Homo sapiens: one gene and its partners. The protein of the gene in region 1 interacts with the protein of each later gene in a pairwise test. Each region holds a gene or a part of one and is shown in the gene's direction. Other genes may lie near its edges.

Region 1 (8,283 bases):
CTTCTTTTTGCAGGGGAAATTAAATAGGATGAATATTCCCTCCCTTCTTTTTTTCTGACACGTAATTGACCAAACCAGTTGTCTTGTAAAATATACCCACATTCTGGATTTGTGCCCTCCTAATGTCATTTCGTTTATTCCTCTTTCTCCCTGAATTTCCTATTAACTGGAAGTTAGGTGTAAAGGAAGGCTTAATTAGCTTAAAGTAAAACTTCCTTTGGCAAGAATATTTAATAGGTGATGCTGTGTACCTCCTGTTGCATAATATAGGAGGCACACAATGTCAGATTCCCACACTATTAATGATGCTAAATGTAACCATTTGATTAAAGTGCTGACTACTGATCTGTTGTAAAGGTGTGGTTTGCCAGTTTGTGATTAATATGTAATCTTGGGGTAAAACTTGGACACTAAGCAAATACCCAGTTTCTGACAATCTTTTGCTTAGTGGTTTTTAGCACCCATGATGACTTTTGCTTAAATCAGTTATTGGAGGTTCTCTGTAAGGAAGAGATTTCCTTCATTAAGTGCAGGTAAACTATTGTTCTTCCCCAAAATGCAAATTAAATGTTAAATTTAATCTCTTTACTTTTCAATATTCATAGTAAAGAGCTGGAGAAATAGCCACCCCCAATGATGTTTTTTGGGGCAGGGGTGAATGATACCACTTCAGACTCTCATGGGTTTTAATTTATTCCTTGTTTTATAACCAGTTACAGTCGTCTTTCTTTTTAATGACCAAATTGTCCCAGATTTGGTCAGTAGGAACCATTTCAAGCTGACTATTGTGTGTCTTGACACCCCTGCTCCCCATTAATCTTGGAGTGCTTTCTGACACGAGTTACTCCAGGGTTTATCTTATACTTTCTTTGCTCACCTCTGGAAAGAGCTGTTTATCCAGGGAGTCTTGGTTCTTTTTAATGAGAAATCGTATATAGAAACCAAGTTCTGGATGTTTGGCATATTCGTTGCTGCTGCAGTATCATTGCTTCTAGGTGCTTTGAGAGGAGAGAACTAAGAAAAAGGTTTTTGCTTGTTTAATCATGAGTTCAGAGTGATATTCCAATTCCTATTTAACAAGCAGACTTTTTCTTCCTTGACTCTATATTTGTCTCTTGTCTTAAATGAAAATCTTGGTTTTTAATACAGTTAATAAACTGGCCAAGCACAGTGGCTCATGCCTGTAATCCCAGGACGTTGAAAGGCCGAGGTGGAAGGATTGCTTGAGCCCAGGAGTTCAAGGCCAGCCTGGGCAACATGATGAGACCCCATCTCTATAAAAAATAAAAAAATTAGCCAGGCGTGGTGGTGTGTGCCTGTGTTCCCAGCTGCTCAGGAGGCTGAAGCAGGTGGATCACTTGAGCCCAGGAGGTTGAGGCTGCAGTGAGCCATGTTCATACCCCACTGCACTTCAGCCTGGATGACAGAGTGAGACCCTGTCTCCAAAAAAAATAATAAACTTATTTGCTTTCTCCCACTGTATACATAAAATCATTTTAAAATTATAGTGCTGGTATTGCTAATACCAATAAGCTTCATGTAGTTTAAGATTTCTTTGCATTTATTTTCGTATTTAGACTATATTGCATGAAGAATGTATAATGAGTACTGTGTTCAAAAGTCACTTGAAATACTTTTCTCTGGTTATGCTACCAATTTGATATGGTTCATAGGTTTCAGTTTTTACTTAGGATTTTATTTTTGAATATGTAAAGTATGTACATAGTGTAGAAGTCAAAATAATGTTTTAAAACTATACTTGGATTAGCCGGGCATGGTGGCACATGCCTGTAGTCTCAGCTACTTGGGAAGCTGAGGCAGGAGAATTGCTTGAACCGGGGAGGTTGCAGTGAGCCAAGATTGCGCCATTGCACTGCAGCCTGGGTGACAAAGCGGGACTCCATCTCAAAAGCAAAACAAAACAAAAAAAAACTATATTTGGATAAACCTCATTAAAATTAGTTTTTAAAGATGAAGTATTGTTTACCTTTACCATACTCCTTTTAGTATCTACTACATTCTCACATCAAGCTCAGAAGAATTAGCAATAGACAAATTATGTTATGTGAAGCCACATAGAAGTACTTTTAAATTTTAAAATTAGATTCTGCTTCCTCTGGCAAAGAGAACTAAGACTAGTTTTTAGAAGTTAGCAGAGAAGTGGATTCCATGCTTACTTTTTTTTTTTTTTAAAGACGGGGGATTTACTGTGTTGCTCAGGCTGGAGTGCAGTGGCTATTCACAGATGTGATCCTACTACTGATAAGCACGGGAGTTTTGACCTGCTCTGTTTCTGACCTGGGCCACTTCTCTCATTAGGCAACCTGGTGGTCCCTCACTCCCTGGAGGTCACCATGTTGATGCCTAATTTAGTGCAGACACCCAATCGGCATAGGATACTACAGTCCAGAACTTCTGGGCTCAAGGGATCTTCCTGCCTCAGCCTCTTGAGTAGCTGGGACTACAGGCACACACCACTGCGCCCAGCTCTTTTTCTTAAATAGTGATTTAAAATAGTGATAGATTCTCATTATGTTGTCCAGGCTGATCTCTCAAACTCCTGAGCTCAAGTGATCCTGCTGCCTTGGCCTCCCAAAGTGCTAAGATTACACATGTAAGCCTGTAGCCGTAGGCCTAGATACCATATTTTTAAATAAAAATTCCATAAAAATAGAACTGTAGCTTTTACTTAAATCATGTCTTTAAAGAGGCAGGTAGTTGGTAGAGGTTTTATGACTCCATCTACTTTTTTAACTTTTTTTTTTTTTTTTTGAGATGCAGTCGCCCTCTGTTGCCCAGGCTGGAATGCAGTGGCTCGATCTCAGCTCACTGCAATCCACCTCTGCCCCCTGGGTTCAAGCGATTCTCCTGCCTCAGCCTCCCTAGTAGCTGGGATTACAGGCATGTACCACCACGCCCAGCTAATTTTTGTATTAGTAGAGATGGGGTTTCACCATGTTGTCCAGGCTGGTCTCGAGCTCCTGACCTCAAGTGATTCACCTGCCTCGGCCTCCTGAAGTGTAATCCTGGCCTCCTAAAGTGCTGGAATTACAGACGTGAGCCACTGCGCCCAGGTGACTCCATCTACAACAAAACTGGCATAAATATGCTATGTACAGATAAAAAGGCATTTGGATATGTGATCAGTGGAGATAACACATTTTGTTTGGGTTGGACCAAATTTGATATAAATTCATAATTATGTGATCTCAAATGAAGTTTTAAGAGGGAGCAGTGTTCATCTAAAGTAAGCAGAGCACAATTAGGCAGTTTATCAGCCTCCTGTCAACCAAGTGCTGAAAAGCAAAACTGTGCCTGTAGTGTGTTTTCCTGTGTTCATCCTCACTGTCATAGGTCACACTAGCTGAGGCTGGCGTTGCAGGTGGTAAAGGAATTACCAAGGCAATTGTAGGTAAAGAAGGGCAGATTTATTAGAGAAAGTATGAAAGTAGGTTGGTTGCAAGGGTGCAACGGGCAGATCAGCAAGAGAGAAGCTGACTGCCAGGAGACAATGGCTTGCTGGGCATGTTACAGGATGATGCTTCTGCTGTGTGCTGCAGAGAGGGCTATGTGCAGTACTGATAAGGCCAAGGTTGCAGTGAGCTAACTTGCATTTTTCTGTCAGCTGAGAGTCTGGTGATAAGTTGAGTGCAGAAAGCTTGTGAGTTATTTGTGCAAGAGGGCTGTGTGTCTTGGACCATGAAGAAAGGCAGACTTATACCTTATCTGCTTTTTCTTTTTGCTGTACCCTTTTCCCACCCGCCTGACTCCTTTTCCCTTACTAGGACTCCACAATCACTGCTTTCAATAACAGAGTGAACATCTAGTTCCATTAGGGAGTGGAGTGGGAAGATGGAGAATGCTTGCACTTGGACCCATTCACCCTCATTCTGTCTTTAATCTCAGTAAAATACATACACTACCCAAGGTTCTTAGAACATATAAGGTGATGAAGAAGAATACTATAAACAGTTGCATGGGTATGTGTAGCCATGTAGCAGCTAGAACCTGTTGTGTAGGCTGAATGAACTAATACAGTGTTGATAATAATGCTAACATTTGTTATGCCCTTTCTGTATGCCAGCTGTGCTAAACATTTTATACATTATCTTATTTAAATCTCACATTAACACTTTGACATTGCTACTAGTATCTTATTTTGCAGTAAGGAAACTGGTATCTAAAAGCATTAAATGACTTGCCTAGAGTATCACAATAAGTGGCCGACCCAGGTTTCAAATTCAAGGCTGTTTAGAGTTAGCACTTAGCTGCTTTGCTCCACCTCACAACTAAATGTAACAAGTCATAAAAATTGAATAAATTTTCAGTCACCATGAATACGGAACTACATGACTGATGCTGTAACAACCTCAGAGATTGCAACGGGGATATGTTCTGAGAAATGCGTCGTTAGGCGATTGTGTCATTGTATGAACATCATAAAGTGTACTTAGACAAAACTTGATGGTATGGCCTACTCTACATCTAGGTTATATGGTATAGCCTGTTGCTCCTAGGCCACGTATCTGTACAGCATGTTACTGTACTGAATGCTGTAGGCTTTTGTAATGCAGTGGAAAGTATATGTATATCTAAGCATATCTAAACCTAGAAAAGGTGCAGTAAAAATATGGTATTACAGGGTTGCGCACGGTGGCTCATGCCTGTAATCCCAGTACTTTGGGAGGCGGAGGCGGGTGGCTCACCTAAGGTCAGGAGCTCGAGACCAGCCTGACCAATATAGTGAAACCCTGTCTCTACTAAAAATACAAAAATTAGCCAAGTGTGGTGGCATGCACCTGTAGTCACAGCTACTTGGGAGGCTGAGACAGGAGAATTGCTTGAACCTGGAAGGTTACACCAGTACCATGCTGTTTTGGTAACTATAGCCTTGTAGTATAGTTTGAAGTCAGGTAATGTGATTCCTCCAGCAGTGAGCCCAGATTGCACCACTGCCCTCCAGCCTGAGCGACAGAATGAGACTCTTGTCTCAAAAATAATATGGTATTATAATATGGGACGGTTGTGGTATTTGTGGTCTATCATTGAGGGACACATGCCACGCATGATTGTATATCATTTTCCTTTCTCATAGGTGCGGGAGTTTCTGACCCCTTGCTTCAGAAACTGCATTTAGATACTACTTTAAAAGGCATTTTAAAAGTAGAGTAAAAATCAAGATGGATTGATGGATGGATAGGTATGTGATAAAACAATAACAGTAGACTTTTTTTTTTTTTTTTGAGACAGAGTCTTGCTGTGTTGCCCAGGCTGGAGTGCAGTGGCACGATCTCAGCTCACTGCAAGCTTCATCCCCTGGGTTCACGCCATTCTCCTGCCTCAGCCTCCCAAGCAGCTGGGACTACAGGTGCCTGCCACCATGCCTGGCTAATTTTTTTGTATTTTTAGTAGAGACGGGGTTTCACCGTGTTAGCCAGGATGGTCTTGGTCTCCTTACCTTGTGATCTGCCCACCTTGGCCTCCCAAAGTGCTGGGATTACAAGCGTTAGCCACCACACCCGGGCTACAGTAGAATGTTAATGGTGGGCTTTAGGTATGGCTATTCAGGTATTCAACTATAATTTTTTTTTTTTTTGCTTGTTCTTTGATTTTTTTTTTTTTTGAATGTTGATAGTTTTGGGGGTGCAGGTGGTTTTTGGCTATATGGATAAGTTCTTTAGTGGTGATTTCTGACATTTTGGTGCACCCGTCACCTGAGCAGTGTACGCTGTACCCAATGTGTAGTCTTTTATCCCTCACCCCACTTGCACCCTTCCCTCCAAGTCCCCAAAGTCCGTTATATCCTTCATATGCTTTTGCGTCCTTGTAGCTTAGCTCCCACTTATAAGTGAGAACATACGATATTTGGTTTTCCATTCCTGAGTTACTTCACTTAGAATAATGGCTTACAACTCCATCCAAGTTGCTGCAAAAGCCAGTATTTCATTCAGTTTTCATGGTGTAAATATACCACGTTTTCTTTATCTGCTCGTTGTTTGATGGGCGTTTAGGTTGGTTCTATATTTTTGCAATTGTGAATTGTGCTGCTGTAAGTGTGTGTACATGTGTCTTTTTCACATAATGACTTCTTTTCTTTTGGGTAGATACCCAGTAGTGGGATTGCTGGATCAAATGGTAGTTCTACTTTTAGTTCTTTTTTTTTTTTGAGTGGAGTTTAGCTCTTGTTGCCCAGGTTGGAGTGCAGTGGCGCAATCTCGGCTCACTGCAACCTCTGCCTCCTGGGTTCAAGCCATTCTCCTGCCTCAGCCTCCCAAGTAGCTGGGATTACAGGCATGCACCACCACGCCCAGCTAATTTTGTATTCTTAGGAGAGGTGGGTTTTCTCCATGTTGGTCAGGCTGGTCTCGAACTCCCGACCTCAGGTGATCCGCCCACCTCAGCTTCCCAAAGTGCTGGGATTACAAGTGTGAGCCATCGTGCCCAGCCTACTTTTAGTTCTTAAAGGAATCTCCATACTGTTTTTCATAGTGGTTGTACTAGTTTACATTTCCACCAGCAGTGTAAAAGTGTTCCCTTTTCACCACAGTCATGCCAATATTTATTATTTTTAATTTTTAAATTATAGCCATTCTTACAGGAGTAAGGTAGTATCTAATTGTGGTTTTAATTTGCATTTCCCTGATAATTAGGGATGTTAAACATTTTTTCATGTGTTTGTTGGCTGTTTTTATATCATTTGAGAATTGTCTATGTTTTTTTTAACCCATTTTTTGACAGGATTGGTGGTTTTTGTTTGTTCGTTTGTTTTTGCTGGTTTGTTTGTATTCCTTGTAGATTCTGGATATTAGTCCTTTGTTGGATGCATACTTTGCAAAAATTTTCTACCACTTTGGGTTGTCTCTTTACTCTGCTGATTATTTCTTTTGCTATGTAGAAGCTTTTTAGTTTAATTAGGTCCCATTTATTTTTGTTGCATTCGCTTTTGGTTTTTTGGTCATGAATTCTTTGCCTAAGCTAATGTCTAGAAGAGTTTTTCTGATGTTATCTTCCAGAATTTTTATGGTTTCAGGCCTTAAGATTTAAGTCTTTGATCCACCTTGTGTTGATTTTTGTGTAAGATGAAAGATAAAGATCCAGTTTCATTCTTCTACATGTGGCTTGCCAATTATCCCAGCACTGTTTGTTGAATAGGGTGTCCTTTCTCCACTTTATGTTTTTGTTTGCTTTGTCAAAGACCAGTTGGCTGTAAGTATTTGGCTTTATTTTGGGGTTCTCTATTCTGTTCCATCGGTCTACATGCCTGTTTTTATACCAGTACCATGCTGTTTTGGTGACTATAGCCTTGTAGTGTAGTTTGAAGTCAGGTAATGTGGTTCCTCCAGATTTGTTATTTTTGCTTAGTCTTGCTTTGACTATGTGGGCTCTTTTTTGGTTCCATATGAATTTTAGAATTGTGTTTTCTAGTTCTATAGAATGATGATGGTATTTTGATGTGAATTGCATTAAATCTGTAGATTGCATTTGGCAGTAAGGTCATTGTCACCATATTGATTCTACCCATCCATGAGCATGGGATGTGTTTCCATTTGTTTGTGTCATCGATGATTTGTTTGAACAGTGTTTTGTAGTCTTCCTTGTAGAGATCTTTCACCTCCTTGGTTAGGTATATTCCTAAGTATTTTAATTTTTCTTTGGCAGCTGTTGTAAAAGGGATTGCGTTCTTGATTTGATTCTCGGCTTGGTCATCATTGGTGTATAGCAGTGCTACTGATTTGTGTACATTAATTTTGTATCCTGAAACTTCACTGAATTCATTTATCAGATCTAGGAGCTTTTCAAATGAATCTTGAGGGTTTTCTAGGTATAAGTTTGTATCATCAGCAAACAGCAACAGTTTGACTTCCTCCTTTGCAGCTTGGTATAAAATTCTTTAAATTTTGCTGTATCTAAAAGTTTTCAAAATAAAATGTTACTGACTAAAAATATATTCTTAGGACTGTACTTTCAGGGATCATTTCTATAGTTTGTTTCTAGAGAAGTTTCTCTGAATATGTAGAGCACTGGAAAAATCAATATTTTTTTTAAAAAAGAGAAAAATATATGTATATTCTTATTATAAAGCAGTATTGGCAGCTGTGTAAAAACCAGTAACATGCTGTATCCTCCATGTCTGTGTACGATGATCCTCTGAAAAATTTATTAACTCTTCCTAGTCTTTTATCACTGAAAATGGTCAAGCATTAAAGACTGTTGTAAAGAGGGTTCCCTCATTACTTAGGAGGCTTCTAATTAAGCTCCTTCCAATATGATTTTTTAATACTC
Region 2 (7,641 bases), on another chromosome or scaffold:
AGCCAGGCCGTTCTGCTGCTGATCACTGGGTGAAGGATGAAGGTGGTGACAGCTGCTCAGGCTGCTCGGTGAGGTTTTCACTCACAGAAAGACGACACCATTGCAGGAACTGTGGTCAGCTCTTCTGCCAGAAGTAAGATAAGATATCTGCTTTTTGAATTTACATTGATTAAGCTCTAAGGTTGTTAATTATGTCCTGCACACAGGTTCTGATTTGCCCTGGCGTCCCCACTACAGTATGCCTTGTTGGTATGAACCAGTCTTCACTTTTTCTGTTCTTCTTTATTACTACAATTAGGAAATTTTTCTGTCATACAAGTCACAAACACCTTGTCATCCATGACACAGAATGCACATATGCTAATATTTCATCGTATTTAATTTAGAGACCTGTATGTGAAATGATTCTATAAACACTATAGATACATTGTAAGTATCCTCTTTGCACCTTTCACCAATCACACCCATTCTCCATGTTTTTATGCTTTCAGGAACATGTGTTGCCTCTGTAAACATTACATCATACTATTTTGGTGTTCTCAGCTTTACTTTTCAGCTTTACGTACTATACTGTTTTTGCCCTTCTGTAACTTTCTTACTCAACATTGTTTTTGAAATCCATTTATATAGATATCTTATTGTAATATATTCATTTTAACTACTGTCGGTTATTTTAATTATATGAATTTATCATCATTATTTCCCTTTTGATGCCCTCTCAGGGTTTTTTTTTTTCTATTTTTATCAGTACTATAAATAATGCTACAATGCACATCCCTATAAATGCCCTTCTAATACACAAGCTAGAATTCCTCTAGAGATGGAATGAAATTGATAGAACACAGACTTATTCTTGATCTTAATTAGATATTGCCAAATTACTCTTCAAAACAGTAGTGCTAGTTAATACTACCTCCACTACCTCCAACAGGCCATGAAGGTTCTCCAAATTCTTAGTCATGCTTGGTACTGCCAGACTTTTTCCACTTTTGCCAATCTGATAGCTAAAAAATAGTGCTTTGTTGTTTTAACTTGCAATGCTAGTGAGACAACATCTTTTCATGTTTGTTGGCTATTTGGGTTTCCTTTTGGGTACTTTGCCCTTTTTTTTTCCTTGAGGAGTTCTTTTATATATTCTGTGCTGTACACCTTTGTTTTTTATATATCTTGCAGATACGTTCTGCCAGTCTGTGGCTTGTGTTTCAACTTTGTATATGTTTTTTCTGTCATCTACAAGTTTTTAAACTGGTTGTAGTCACATGTATTACTCTATGATTTTTGCTTTTTTGTGCCTTAAGAATTCTTTCTCTGTCCTAGGATCACAAAGATAATCTTGTTTATTTTCTTTTAAAGGTTTCAAAGTTTTATTTTTCACATTTAGGTCTTTAATTCATTTGTAATTTATTTTGGGGTATAACATGAGGCGAGGATCTATTTTTCCCCCATATGAAAGGTCAGTGGTCCCATGGCTATAGATTTGGTTGATATCTCTGTCCTACACCTGGGTCCCAGATACACATCCACAGTCGTTACTTTTTCTGCCAGACAACAGAAAGGATTCCATGGACAGTACACTTTAAGGCTTATATTGCCTTACTCCAGAGATGCTTTCATAGAAAGCATATTATTCTCAACTTGTGTAATTATGAGTCCATTCCTGAGGTTTTATAGGCAGCATTGGCTTACTGGTATGGGCATAGTCTTTGGGTTTACACTGACCAAATGCTCACTGTGCTACTTTCTGTTGCCATAATGCCAGCAAGTTACCGAGCCTCTCTGAGCTTTGGTTTCTTTATCTGTAAATGTGGGTAAGAAGACCAGTCCTCTTAGAGCTATTGAGAGAATTAAATGAGATCACATATATGAGTGTTGTAAAGCACCAAGTTCAGAGTCTGGCAAAACAGGTGTTCCATCATTTGATTCCTTAAACCTTTTCTGCTGGGCAGTCTGGTTCAAGATGAGGGACCCAAAATGTTGCAGCCAGCCATTTCCTGTGGGAATTTCTGTGAGGCTGGCAGAGGATTCTGTCTAGTGGCTCTGTGCTTTGAAAGGCCTGCTCTATAAAACCTATAATGGGACCGGGCACAGTGGCTCATGCCTGTAATGCCAGCACTTTGGGAGGCTGAGGTGGGCTGATCACCTGAGGTCAGGAGTTCGAGACCAGCCTGGCCAACATGGCAAAACCCTGTCTGTACTAAAAATACAAAAATTAGCCAGGTGTGGTGGTGAGCTACTCAGGAGGTTGAGGCGAGAGAATCACTTGAACCCAGCAGACAGAGGTTGCAGTGACCCGAGATCACGCCACTGCACTCCATCCAGCCTGAGCAACAGAGCAAGACTCCATCTCAAAAAAATAGATAATAAATTTAAAAACCCATAATGGGTTTTATAGAGCAGGCCTTTCAAAGCACAGAGCCGCTAGACATATATATATATATCTTTTATTTTTATTTTTATTTTTTTTGAGACGGAGTCTCACTCTGTCACCCAGGCTGGAGTGCAGTGGCGTGATCTCGGCTCACTGCAGCCTCCGCCTCCTGGGTTCAAGCGATTCTTCTACCTCAGCTTCCTGAGTAGCTGGGACTACAGGCGTGCACCACCACGCCTGGCTAATTTTTGTATTCTTAGTAGAGACGGGGTTTCACCATATTGGCCAGGCTCGTCTCGAACTCCTGACCTTGTGGTCTGCCCACCTTGGCCTCCCAAAGTGCTGGGATTACAGTCATGAGCCTCCGCACCCAGCCTATATATATATATTTCTTGAGATGGGGTCTTCCTCTATCACCCAGGCTGGAGTACAGTGGCACGATCACAGCTCAGTGCAGCTTTGATCTCCCAGGCTCAAGCAGTCCTCCCACCTCAGCCTTCCAAGTAGCTGAGACTATAGGCAAGAGCCACCACACCTGGCTAATTTTTGTATTTTTTGTAGAGATAGAGTCTCACTATGTTCCCCAGGCTGGTCTCACAGCCGCGGGCTCAAGCAGTACCCCCGCCTCAGCCTCCTAAAGTGCTGGGATTACAGTTTTCAGCCTCCACACCCATCATATTAATCTAGTGATTTGTACTAGCACTCCCGTATGTATGCTGGCACACATCTGTTCTTTGTAGTGTTTAATTTTCAAAATATTGTTTAAATATAGGTAATTCTTTAAATTATCCATTGCTATTAAATGTTGGATGGAAGCTTTATTGGAAACTGACCAAACAGTGATAAGTTCTGATGAAGCAGGCACAGAAGGAAGTGCTTTCCAGAACACACAGCCTGTGGTCTCTATGGCTGAGAGCTGTTGACACTCTTGAGGGATCTGAGAGGTCCAGTGACAGTCCTTTAAACCCATAAGGTTATAGTACTTAATTTACTCTCTGGACATTTTTACTGGTAGATTAATGGACTAAACATAAATCTCCATTTCAAGGCCAGGCACAGTGGCTCACGTCTGTAGTCTCAGCACTTTGGGAGGTCAAGGCAGGAAGATCACTTGAGGCCAGGAGTTTGAGGACAGCCTGGACAATGTAATGAGACCCCATCCCTACCAAAAAAAAATTTTTTTTTTCATTTCCATTTCAATCTTCTGAAAATCCAAGCCTAAAGTGATTTAATACCACATCCTGAGTCACACCTGGCTTTATTCCAGGAATAGGAACTCTGAATACTTCTTAAAGAATTTGAACATCTCTTAAGAATAGTCTCCTTCAAACAGTTCTAGCAAGATAAATAGGAAATGAGGGTGTTGGGACTGGAAAAGGAAAGCCAGTCTAACTGTTTAAGAAATGATTAAAGAGTGGATCAATCAAAATGTTTAAAAGCACAATGGAACTTGATAGTGATCAAACTCATATTTCTTTTGGAAATTAGAAGACTCACTAATGAGTCATTAGTAATTCTCTTGAAAATAGATACTCATTAGTGAGTCTTCTAATTTCCGCTAGTGAGTTTTTCTGATTTCCAAGAGAAATATGTCAAGCTCCAGGTAAAGACATTGACATACCTCCCAAGCTTATAGGCCATGAGAATTAGTCTACACAGGTAGAATGGCCTTACATCACTGTTCAGACACCTTGGCCTCATTGTATAGGAAAATCTTAACTCTGTTTTTTTGTTTTCGTTTTTTTAATTCTTGTCAGTCAAAGAAATAGCTTCCCTGGTTTAATACTGCTTTTCTTCATAGACTGAAACAAATAATACAGCTTTCCTTTTAGTCCTTGTTCAGCCACACAACACAAACCAGTATGGCCTTTGGCATTTTACTGCAAGCTTTCCATTCGATTATTAATGTTTCCGGTGCCCATGATCAAGCATGGAGAAGACCTATAATTAATTGACTTTTCCTTTCCTTTAGGTGCAGTCGCTTTCAATCTGAAATCAAACGCTTGAAAATCTCATCCCCGGTGCGTGTTTGTCAGAACTGTTATTATAACTTACAGCATGAGAGAGGTTCAGAAGATGGGCCTCGAAATTGTTGAAGATTCAACAAGCTGAGTGGAGACCATGGTCTGTAGACCCCTTCCCGATTCTCCTGTCCCAGCTTGGAAGGCATTGAAAACAGTCTCCGTTTACACATCTCTTCATACCACGTGTTTGAAGTGTTAAAATTCAAAGGGATCATTGAATAAAACGGGTGTAGAGTACAGGAATGGGGCAGACGCGATTCAGGTGAACAGCACAAGAAGAATATGAGGTGGTTCCTAGGAGCAACACTTTCGACCTCCAGTTCTCCCTGATGACAGTAGCTGTCTCCAAGAGAAAAATCCTCACTTATTAACTCTCTTTTCTTGCATCTCATTTTTATAGAGCTACTCATCCTTATTTGGAAAAACCAACAACAAAAAAGGCTTTTAGAAAATGGTTGTAAATCTGACTTCTTTGCAAGTAACTATGTATATTGTAAATAGATATAAAAGGCCTTTTTTCTAAATAAGGACTTAACTGCCTGTAACATGAAACTTCAAACTAAACCACTAACTCAATGAACTACTTATGGTTTGTCTGACATCCCTCACTTACCAATTAATTATAAATATGTTTTTTTAAATCCCCAAAGACATTATCTGTGGTCTTTTTTTCCTTTCAAGCTCAGCCTGTGTGCCTGATGTCATTTCTTTCAAGTTGCCCACAGTATCTCCACTTAAACTAGGCTAGTAACCAAAATAATGTGGACCTTCTTTAGGAAACAGTGTGGGAGAATAGGAGTCCAGCCGTAAGATAAACTGGAAATATTTGGGCGTCTTGTACCTGGCTACGCACCACCTCAGTGTTGTTCCTACATAAACAGGGCCCCTTTTAAACTTGTATGTGGACTGCTGTTTGGTCAAAGAATACCTTCTTAGCATTGCAGAAAGGTGGTCAGATGACCAGTGTAGTGCAGGAAACAGCCCTGTCTCAACTAATGGAAATATATTTGCATGTAACCCAAAATTAGCTTATCTTGCATAGAACATAATAAGTATGTGTCTTTGGTGACACTAATGTTCTACTATAGCTTATTTTCAAACAAGGGGTAAAAAAAGGAAAGAAAGAAGTGTACAGAATTAACATATAAACTTTGTTGTAAAACTGAATCATGTCAGAACTGCTTAAAATTAACCTTTACCATTTAATGTCATCTACCTGAAAACAGTGAGATTTATACTGTATCAATGTCTATTTTTTTGTTTTTGCTATGAATATAATTACAGTATTTTAATATTTAGTTATTTAATTTGTTCTACTAGTTGGATACAGAACACACAAATCCAGGGGGATTAAAGCTGGAAGGGGCTAAGAGATTAGTTTACAGAGAAAAGGCTTGGTGGTGGGATTTTTTTAAATGTGTGTTATGTACATATATATATATATATAATATATATTAAAAATGAAACAATTAATCTAGATTTTAACATTTTCAGAAACTTAGTGATAACATTATGAACAATTCTAAAAGCCCTGTGATTTGAAAAATATAGAATCATTAATGGCCCAAGATAGGCCTTCACACCTTCACAGGTGCGAAAGGAAAGGCCTTCACACCCTCACAGAGGCATCATGCAAAGGACAGCGGCTTTGGCTTTTCCAATTTTCCATCTTTAGGCCCTGGTGAGAGGCACACTTATGCACTAAAATGCACATATATGCACATGCATTCAAAAATAGGCATTTGGTACAATGGTGATCTTGTACCTGATGGGCTGAAACCAGCTTAAGAACAAATTTGTTCTTCCTGATATGATAACTAGGTCTCCAAGAGAAAATAGAAAGGCTGCTTTAGTGCCTTACGCTTACTAAATTTAAATCTTTATTTACCTGGGTTTGAGCCTACAGTCTATTTATGATTACATATCAAAATTGATTAAAACACTTCCATTTCTAAAAGTTCAAATATACTTGTTAATAAAAGGATTATCGGCATTAATACTTTAATTTAAAGAAAAGTTGTGTTCTGTTTTCCTTTCTGTGTCTTACTCCCCCCACACTCTCCCTCCCCCATCACCATCTTCAATTCTAATAAATAATGCTGATGTTCAACAGTTGCAGAAATTGTGCTATTATGTAACTGTGGGCCTTGCCCCTGTCTGGCCCTCTAGATGATTTGTAGCAGTGTTATTCTACACTTTTTAAAAGAAGCGTCCTCCTTTTGTCCATGAATCATGTTTACCCCATACCCAGTGGCAGAGGTGTTCTTTAAAGACTTGAATATATGAATGTGTGTGTGTAGTTACTTAAAGGTTATTCCTCTTTGTAATAGGAAACTATATGGGATGAACACTTTTAAACTTTCCGACACAACTTCCATTACTAACTTTCTAACAGAACTTCCATAACTAGAAGGTGGAAACCAAAACCCTCATGGTAGTATTTCCTCTGGCAGCTGGTGCTGTGGGCAACTGTTTTGTTCAATCGGGTTTCTTTTCTTTTTGCCTCTAATGCAGAAATCAACAGAATCACTCACACATACAAGTACACTCACATACATAAACTAATTATTTCTCTGGATATCTTTCTGTGTTCCATGTAAATTTATTTACCAACATCTATTGTCAACATGTACATCTACCTTAGTATGGTCTGCATTCTTTTTCTGAGAGTACCTCATAGGGCTCCTGCCTGATCTTTGTAGTTTGTTCATTCATCCATCCACCTGTTCATTTGTTCATCCATGTATTCTAACATTTCTATGTAGTGTGCAACTCTAATGTCATGCTTTTGAAGAAGAGAATAGCTGCCCATAGCAGCCATCCGTCTGGATAATAGCAAAACACTCTAGATAAGTTATTTTGCACTTTCTTATGTATAAAGTTGGTAGAAACTTATTTTTGCTTTGTATCATTTAAATACATTTTGTTTTGGTAAATGAACTGTGTATAAAATATTTATGCCGTTAAAACTGTTTTTAGAAAGTATTTTTAATTTCAGCAAGTTTGGTTACTTGTTGCATGACTCTTAACACAGCTGACTTTTTGTGTCAGTGCAATGTATATTTTTTGTCCTGTTATTAACTTGTAAGCCCTAGTAATGGCCAATTATTTGTACAGCAACAGAAGTAAATTGAAGATACTGGCTAAGACTGGATTGATTGTGGACTTTTATACTATATTGCAGAAACCAATATCTGTTTCTTGGTGGTTATGTAAAAGACCTGAAGAATTACTATCTAGTGTGCAGTC
Region 3 (7,641 bases), on another chromosome or scaffold:
TTTAACCTAAGTTATTGTTAATTGTTTCTGTCAGCTCCTCCTGGTCATTGAACTATGTCACGGGATATTTCTCTTTGGAAATTTCTTAAAATCAATGATACTTAATGAAACTCTGATGATCCTTTGTTAATATAAAAATCAGTTCTGTCTACTCCTGTGTTTTACAGCCAATGGGCAGGGTAATTCACAAATTACACCAAAAATAAATATTCGGGGAAAGATGCAGAACTTATACAAAGAGAAAGCTTGCACCTGGGCATGATATTCTTTCAAGTTTTACAGATTCTATCATTAGATTTGTTGGCGCTAGCTCCGGGTCCTCAGCTGTCACTTTGATTTTCTCTGTTGTTCCTCCTTAAGTGAATAGCTTTTTAATATACATCAGATCAATATCCATGTTGTTTCCTAGAACTTCTAGGTGCCCAGCCCTTTTCTGTTTATTAATAGTATCTCCTAGGATCCTTGCCACATTTTCACAAGAGTCACTACTGATACAGGTTGACTATCCCTTCTCTGAAATGCTTGGGATCAGAAGTGATTAAGATTTCAGATTTTTTTGGATTTTGGAATATTTGCATTATACTTATCACTTGAGCATTGGAAATCCACAATCCAAAATGCTTCAGTGAGCATTCCTTTGAGCATCATGTCAGCACTCAAAAGGTTTCAGATTTTGAAGCATTTTGGATTTCAGATTTGGGATTAGGAATACTCAACCTGTATTAAACAAAGCTGGTCCCTGAGGCAACTACTCAGATATTTTTTTATTTGAAAAGTTGCTCTTTATCATTAGATGTTGCTACTGCTTTTCCCAAAAATATCAGAGTCCTCATAACTTTTTTCTGTTAAAATCAAATAATATTTATTGGTATTTATGATTTATGATATATAGGCATATATCATAACTTACACACATATAAGTACCTTAAAATTACCTTAAGTTATTTTAGAAGATATGTATTTGTATCTCACATGTATTTTTGTATTTATTCATTCAGGAATATATTGAGTGCTTGCTATGTACAAAACTGAACATTTGTTTAAACACATAATTGCAGGATCAGATGTCAAGCAACCCAATTTCTAAAAGCCTCACAGAACTAAGTGAAGATTTAACAATTAACCCAGTTCCTCTAAATATATCAATATCTCCTATTTGTTGGAGTAATTTGTAAGCTCAAGTACAACTGAGAATGATAGGGACCTAAAGAATCGTGGCTTAATCAAGAGTGGCTTATTTTCTGTCCTCCCTGTGGTCATCCACAGTACTCAGGAATCCTGGTTCACAATGGCTACTGGATGCAGTAGCAAAAAGTTTTTAAAATAGAGCAAGGGGCCAGGCATGATGGCTCATGCCTGAAATCCCAGTGCTTTGGGAGGCCAAGGCAGGAGGATCACCTGAGGCCAGGAATTCAAGACCAGTCTGGGAAACATAGCCAGACCCTGTATATACAAAAAAAAAAAAAAAAAAATTGGCTGAGCATAGTATCACATGCCTTTAGCTCTAGCTACTCAGGCAGCTGCAGCAGGAGGATCACATGAGCCCAGGAGTTTGAGGCTGCAATAAGCTATAATCGTGCCACTGCACGCCAGCCTGGGTAACAGAAGGAGGCCCTGTCTCTAAAGAAATAAAGAAATAAACCAGAGTACAGTAAGTACCAGCCTTAAAGAAAAAAAGATAAATGACTTTAAAAAGAACTTCTGTTCATCAAAAGATACCAATAAGAGAACAAAAAGGTAAGCCACAAACTGGCTGATGATATTTTTTGCAATGCATATATCTAAGAAAGGTGTTAAATCCAGAGTATGCATAAAAAGCAGGCATGTCTCTAAAAGCAATGCCTAAATAGCCCATAAACATCTCATAAGATGCTCAATATCATCACTCATCAGGGAAATGCAAATTAACAACATGATGAAATGCCATTACCCACCAGAATGGCTAAAATTAAAAAGAATTACAATGCCAAATGCTGGTGAGGACGTGGAGCAACTGGAATACTTATAAATTCCTGGTAGAATTATGTATCGACGCAACCAATTTGGAAACTGACAGTATCTACTAAAGCCGCAAACATGCTCATGCTGTGGCCCAGCATTTCCACTCCTGGGAATATACCCAAGAGAAATGAGTGCATGTTGTTCACCAAATGAGGGGAAGTGGCCAAATGAGGCTTCACAGCAGCACCTTGAATTTTGTCTCCGAAGATGGCAGGTATTCTCTAAGTGCACAGACACTGGGAGCACCATGTAAAGTCATGGAGATACAAACGAGCATGAGGTGTTTGGGAGCATGGTAGTTGTAAACTGCTGGCGCACATGAGTTAGGATTCTAGAAAGACACAAGGCTCAAGGGGTAGGCCGGGTCTTGTAGAGCTTGCCAAGGAGTGAGTTTTGCCAAGGAGCTTGTTCAGGTTTGACTTTCAGAGAGATCACTCAAGAGGTATGCGGGGTGAAGCTAGGGAGGCTAAGTAACTCTTGGCAGGAAGCCACAGGGGGTGCTAATTATCACTTTGCTGCCATTTTACCAATTTGGGGGAATAAGTACTTTTACCCTGAATTATACTACCTGCCATTCTATGCAGAGAATGGAATTGGTATGTTGCTATAACTGATGATTTTCCAGAAAGCCTTACACTTCCATAATAGCGACAGGAAGAGAAGGTAGACAGATGACAATCCAGCAAGCATTTGCTCAACCGCCATCCTGTCTAGCTCAGCATCTCTTTGACAACTTTCAAACTTTCTACCAAAAACATCACTGATTTTACAAAACGTGTACGGGCTTTGTCCATTCTTAGGGTGAACTTTGCCCTTTCCATCCAAATCCTCTTCCTGTACTGACCATTCCAGAAAGACAACACAGGCTTTGCCCATGGCCAGCATCCTTAGTGAGTGTGTGAAAACCACCCAAAGGAAAGGGAAAGGAAAAGCAAAACATGGTATTTTTCTTTAGAGCAAGACTCTGATTTCTCAATGTGAACCCGTTGCCCAATTTTCTTGAGACAGCCCCAAATTTGTATTAGTCCCTGTGTTAAAATGGCCATCACGGGCTCATTACACAGCAGACATTGTCACACTGCTCATGTTTCTGCCAAGGAAAACACAAGAGGAAATGATCTTACTGGGAAAGAGGAGGTGTGAGGCTGAGGGTAAAGTCCCTGACCATGAACAAATCATGAGACTCTGCCAGGGCTCCTGGGGGAGGGGCAGAATCACCTTTACTAGCGATTTAAGAAGAAAAGATTCTTACCAAAAAGATAGCTGCACTCGTATGTTTATCACAGCACTGTCCACAGTAGCAAAGATATGGAATCAACCTAAGTGTCCATCAAGTGGATGACTGGAAAAAAAAATGCGGTATATATAGCATGGAATACTCCTTAACTATAAAAAGGAATGAAATCACATCTTTTACAGCCACATGGTTAGAATTGGAGGTCATTATCTTAAATGAAATAACTCAGAAACAGAAAGTCAAATACCACATGTTCTCATTTAGAAGTGAGACCTAAACAATGGGTACACATGGACATGCAGAGTGGAATAAGAGACACTGGAGCCTCCACAGGGTGGGAGGGTGGGAGGGTGACCAGGGGTGAGGGCTGAAAATTACCTATTGGGTGCGCTGTTCACTATTTGGGTGATGGGTACACTAAAAGCCCAGACCTCATCACTATGCAGTATCTGCACATAAGAAATCTGCACTTGTACTCCCTAAATCTATAAAAAGTAAAAAATTAAAGAGAAAGAATTGGCCGGGCATGGTGGCTCACGCCTGTAATCCCAGCACTTTGGGAGGCCGAGGCGGGTGGACCACGAGGTCAGAAGATTGAGACCATCCTGGCTAACATGGTGAAACCTTGTCTCTACTAAAAATACAAAAAATTAGCCGGGTGTGGTGGCACGTGCCTGTGGTCCCAGCTACTCAGGAGGCTGAGGCAGAAGAATCACTTGAACCCAGCAGGCAGAGGATGCAGTGGGCTGAGATCGCGCCACTGCACTCCATCCTGGCGACAGAGCGAGACTCTGTCTCAAAAAAAGAGAGAAAGGATTCTATCCATGTGCCAGGGTATGAGCCTCTTGACACCCAGATCCTTGAAAAAGATGCTTTGCCTCAGTGGTCCGCCGCAGACCCCTTCGCTTCCCCAGTTGCAAACTGTACTCAAAGGTGCAGGGAAAACTTTTGGATCAGTTACTGAATTCCAATTTTTTGGTGACTTTAGGGACATAGCCAAATTTCCCGGGCTGGTTGCCTTAAGCACATTAATTTATGTGATGCTATTCTGTTCCTTAGATAAAGTTCCTTAAATAGAAAGAAGGGAGCTTCTGGATTCCAGGGAGGCAGCTAGCCTGCACTGCTTCAAAGAGAAAGAAAGGAACGAGTACATCGCTGCTGTCACTTGGAGCAGCTCAGGAGGGCAGCCTCCAAGAGCTGAAAGCCAGGGGGAGGCTTCCATGCGAGGAGGATTCAGGTTCCTGTTTCACTCTAAAAAGGTCCACTGAGGAGGAGTCTCTGGAAACATCTAAAGTAACTCCCTCCCAGCCTCTAGTGTTTCTGGTCAGCAGACAAGCACACAAGGGAGGCCAGAGATGGAACCACCACCAGGGGAACAGCACATAAAGGAGCTCCAACCTTCACAGGTGCGGGTTGTCTTTAAATCCAACAAGACCCCACTTTTAGAAACTGACCCCTCTGCCACTGGACAGAGCCAGAGAATACCACCAGATCCGCCCATATGCAAGCCCTGCAGTCACATCAGCTCCAGGCCTCAGGAGCGATGTGGAGGCTCCTCAAGCACCTGCCTCCTGCTGCCACCCAGGATTTCCTGCCATTATTCACAATGCCATATCAGCCTCAAATTCCGCCCACCCAGCAGGCAGCTCCACTGTGCACGTGGGCACCCTCCAGTGAAAAAGACCGGGTACCATCTCTCTTCAAAGCAGCAGAATGTAGGGTTTGTCTGGATTCCTACCTTCGTCATGTGGTAAAAATAAGAGAATACAGGTAGATTTCTGTTAAACAAGCACAGTCGTGAAAATCTCTGCAAAACTACACAGTGTTCATCCTCCATCAGTTGTGCTTGATTTTAAGCCAAATTGAACAGTGCCCTATTCCCTGACACTGGGAACATTTAGACGTCCCCTGGCATTCCTTGCATGGGAACCTTGACCTTCTGCTCCTCATAAAGCAACCACAAAGGCTTCCTTTTTCAGGCAGATTCGGACTGCAAAATTTTTCACCAAGTGCATGTTCTCAAATAAGACTTTGAAGACAGAAGTTACAAGGTGATGCATACTTATCAAGAAAGAAAATGACATTAGGGCACCCAAAGGAATTGGCCTTTGGAAAAAATAAGATAGACATTTGAATTAATAAACATTGTCCCCCTCCCCCGGAAACAACCTCTGTACCCAAGGACTTCTTTCTCTAATAGCCTCATTTTATTTTCTCTTGACTTATTTTCTCTTTTATTCAGCCAATTCAAATGATTAAGAAAATTGGTTTGTTTCCCCAGCAGCCACCCAGCTGTGACACCTCTTAGGCACATCTGAGCCTTTTGGGGCTGCTCCTTACCCCATCCCAAAGGGGTGACTCTCCATTCCTGCTGGATGCCGAGAGCCCTTGTAGTAAACCCCAGTCAGAACCCTTTTCTTATTGCAGGGATTTGTAAATCAGGTACTATTAATATATACTAAGTCAAGCCAGACCGACTGCCCCCAAACCCATTATTTAATTGAAACCTTGGATGCATAGTAAGGTTGGCCTTGGGTTCTGGCCTGTATGCTTGGACACAGACCAGAGAGAGAATCTGAGAGAAGCAGACCCTGGTGCAAATGCGCATTGGAAGAGAGGTCTCCAGTTCTGCACAACAGAAACGGGTTACTGGTGAGCTGCAGTGAGGGCCAGGGAGGGCTGCTGGACCAGGAGGATAGGCTGGGATATGACAGGGCAAAGCTGCTCATCCAACCCCTGCAGGATCCGCAGGATCAGTCAGCAGGCGGCAGCTCCCTTTCCTGTACACAGTTCCTGAAAGGTAACGTATATAGAGGAATCAGTAGTTACTAGCAACAAGTAGATAAATGCTAACCCCGATAGCCCCTCACTCATGGAGGATTTACTGTCTGGAACCATGGACCACCCCACCCTAAGACTGTGTCCTGGCTATCATGCATATACTAGAATCACACCCCATGTGGATCTGGTCTGAAATTGTCTCTGCATAGCCCATCCTGATCACTTCTGTCCTCTCATCAGTAACATTTACAAACAGTGTCTATCAGGTGAGCACACTGTGATTCTTTGGTTGGAAGGAAAGAAACCCTGCAAGCATTCTTTTTGCATTTTGTGATAATTCTTATCTCCGTTATCCTGCTCAGCCAGGCCCATGTTCTTTTTGCCAGTTTGTTGAGCGCAATGGGCATGTGTGCTTTAAAAAGTATTCTGTATTGTGATAAGGAGCTGAATCTCCTCCTAGCCTCGGAGATGGCTCCTCAGACTGAAAACTCTTTCTGGTGCTCCTCAAAGCTCTGCTACCTCTGTCTTTGCTCTAGAGATTGCAGAACTGGTAATGCTGGTAATGCTTTATTGCCATGACATTGCCAGGAGTTTCCAATGATTGGTAACTGTGTTTCCTGATGCATTTAACAATTCCCATCCTGCACTAATGTGATCTGCCTCTCCCCCCACAGGCACAAAGGGTGCATAAGAAGTTTCCTAAACCTGGCAGAGTACATCATGCCTCCGAGAAGAAACGTCATTCCACTCCTTTGCCGAGCACTGCTGTACCAAGCCATACACCTGGCAGCAGCCAGCAGTCCCCGCTCAACAGTCCTCACCCGGGGCCCATCCGGACAGGCCTGCCTCCTGGGCACCAGCAGGAATTTGCCGGACGAGCCAACAGCACCCCCAACCCTCCCTGGTCTTTCCAGAGAAGCAAGTCCTTGTTTTGTTTGCCCACGGGAGGCCCCTCCCTGGCCTCCTCAGCTGAACCACAGTGGTTTTCAAACACAGGTGCCCCAGGGCACAGGGCATCAGAGTGGAGGCATGGCCACCTCCTCTCCATCGATGACCTAGAGGGGGCCCAGGAGACAGACGTGGACACAGGCCTGCGGCTGTCCTCATCGGACCTGTCTGTGGTCTCTGCATATTCTGCACCCAGTAGGTTCTGCAGCACAGTGGAGACACCCCTCCCCTCCGAAAGATGCAGCAGCCACTGGGCAGCTCACAAGGATTCCAGGGAGGGACCACTGCCCACTGTCAGCAGGGTGACCACAGAGGCCTCCTGGGCTTCCCTCCCTTTCTTCACCAAAAGGTCTTCCAGCTCCTCAGCGACAGCTCGTGCTGCTCCCCCAGCTCCCAGCACCTCCACCCTCACAGACTCCTCCCCACAGCTCCCATGCGATACCCCCAAAGTCAAGCAGACTGATGGAGACATGCCACCACCCCCAGGGTCGGCTGGCCCCGGGGATAACGACATGGAGGAATTCTACATCTGAATGCCCTCTGCTCTTGTTCTCGAAACACACAAACTCAGAGACACAGACTCAGGCCCCACTGCCCCTCTGGCCACTGAGCACACCACATTCTTCATGATCCATTTCCCAGGAGCCCGTAGCACATTTGCCTACCACCCACTC

What was found. Proteins that work in one complex are often made in the same cells at the same time.
Region 2: the proteins of ZBTB44 (region 1) and WDFY3 interact in binary tests that used the Homo sapiens proteins (3 or more experiments, as listed by UniProt).
Region 3: the proteins of ZBTB44 (region 1) and FAM124A interact in binary tests that used the Homo sapiens proteins (3 or more experiments, as listed by UniProt).

The regions. Positions count from the first base shown.
Region 1 is NC_000011.10:130,304,385-130,312,667, reverse strand, and holds part of ZBTB44 (zinc finger and BTB domain-containing protein 44), read left to right. Parts: intron 1-2,193; exon of another isoform or gene 2,194-2,488; intron 2,489-7,953; exon of another isoform or gene 7,954-8,031; intron 8,032-8,283. UniProt on the Homo sapiens protein: May be involved in transcriptional regulation.
Region 2 is NC_000004.12:84,669,691-84,677,331, reverse strand, and holds part of WDFY3 (WD repeat and FYVE domain-containing protein 3), read left to right. Parts: coding exon 1-133; intron 134-4,340; coding exon 4,341-4,464; 3' UTR 4,465-7,641. UniProt on the Homo sapiens protein: Required for selective macroautophagy (aggrephagy). Acts as an adapter protein by linking specific proteins destined for degradation to the core autophagic machinery members, such as the ATG5-ATG12-ATG16L E3-like ligase, SQSTM1 and LC3.
Region 3 is NC_000013.11:51,273,757-51,281,397, forward strand, and holds part of FAM124A (protein FAM124A), read left to right. Parts: intron 1-6,693; coding exon 6,694-7,500; 3' UTR 7,501-7,641.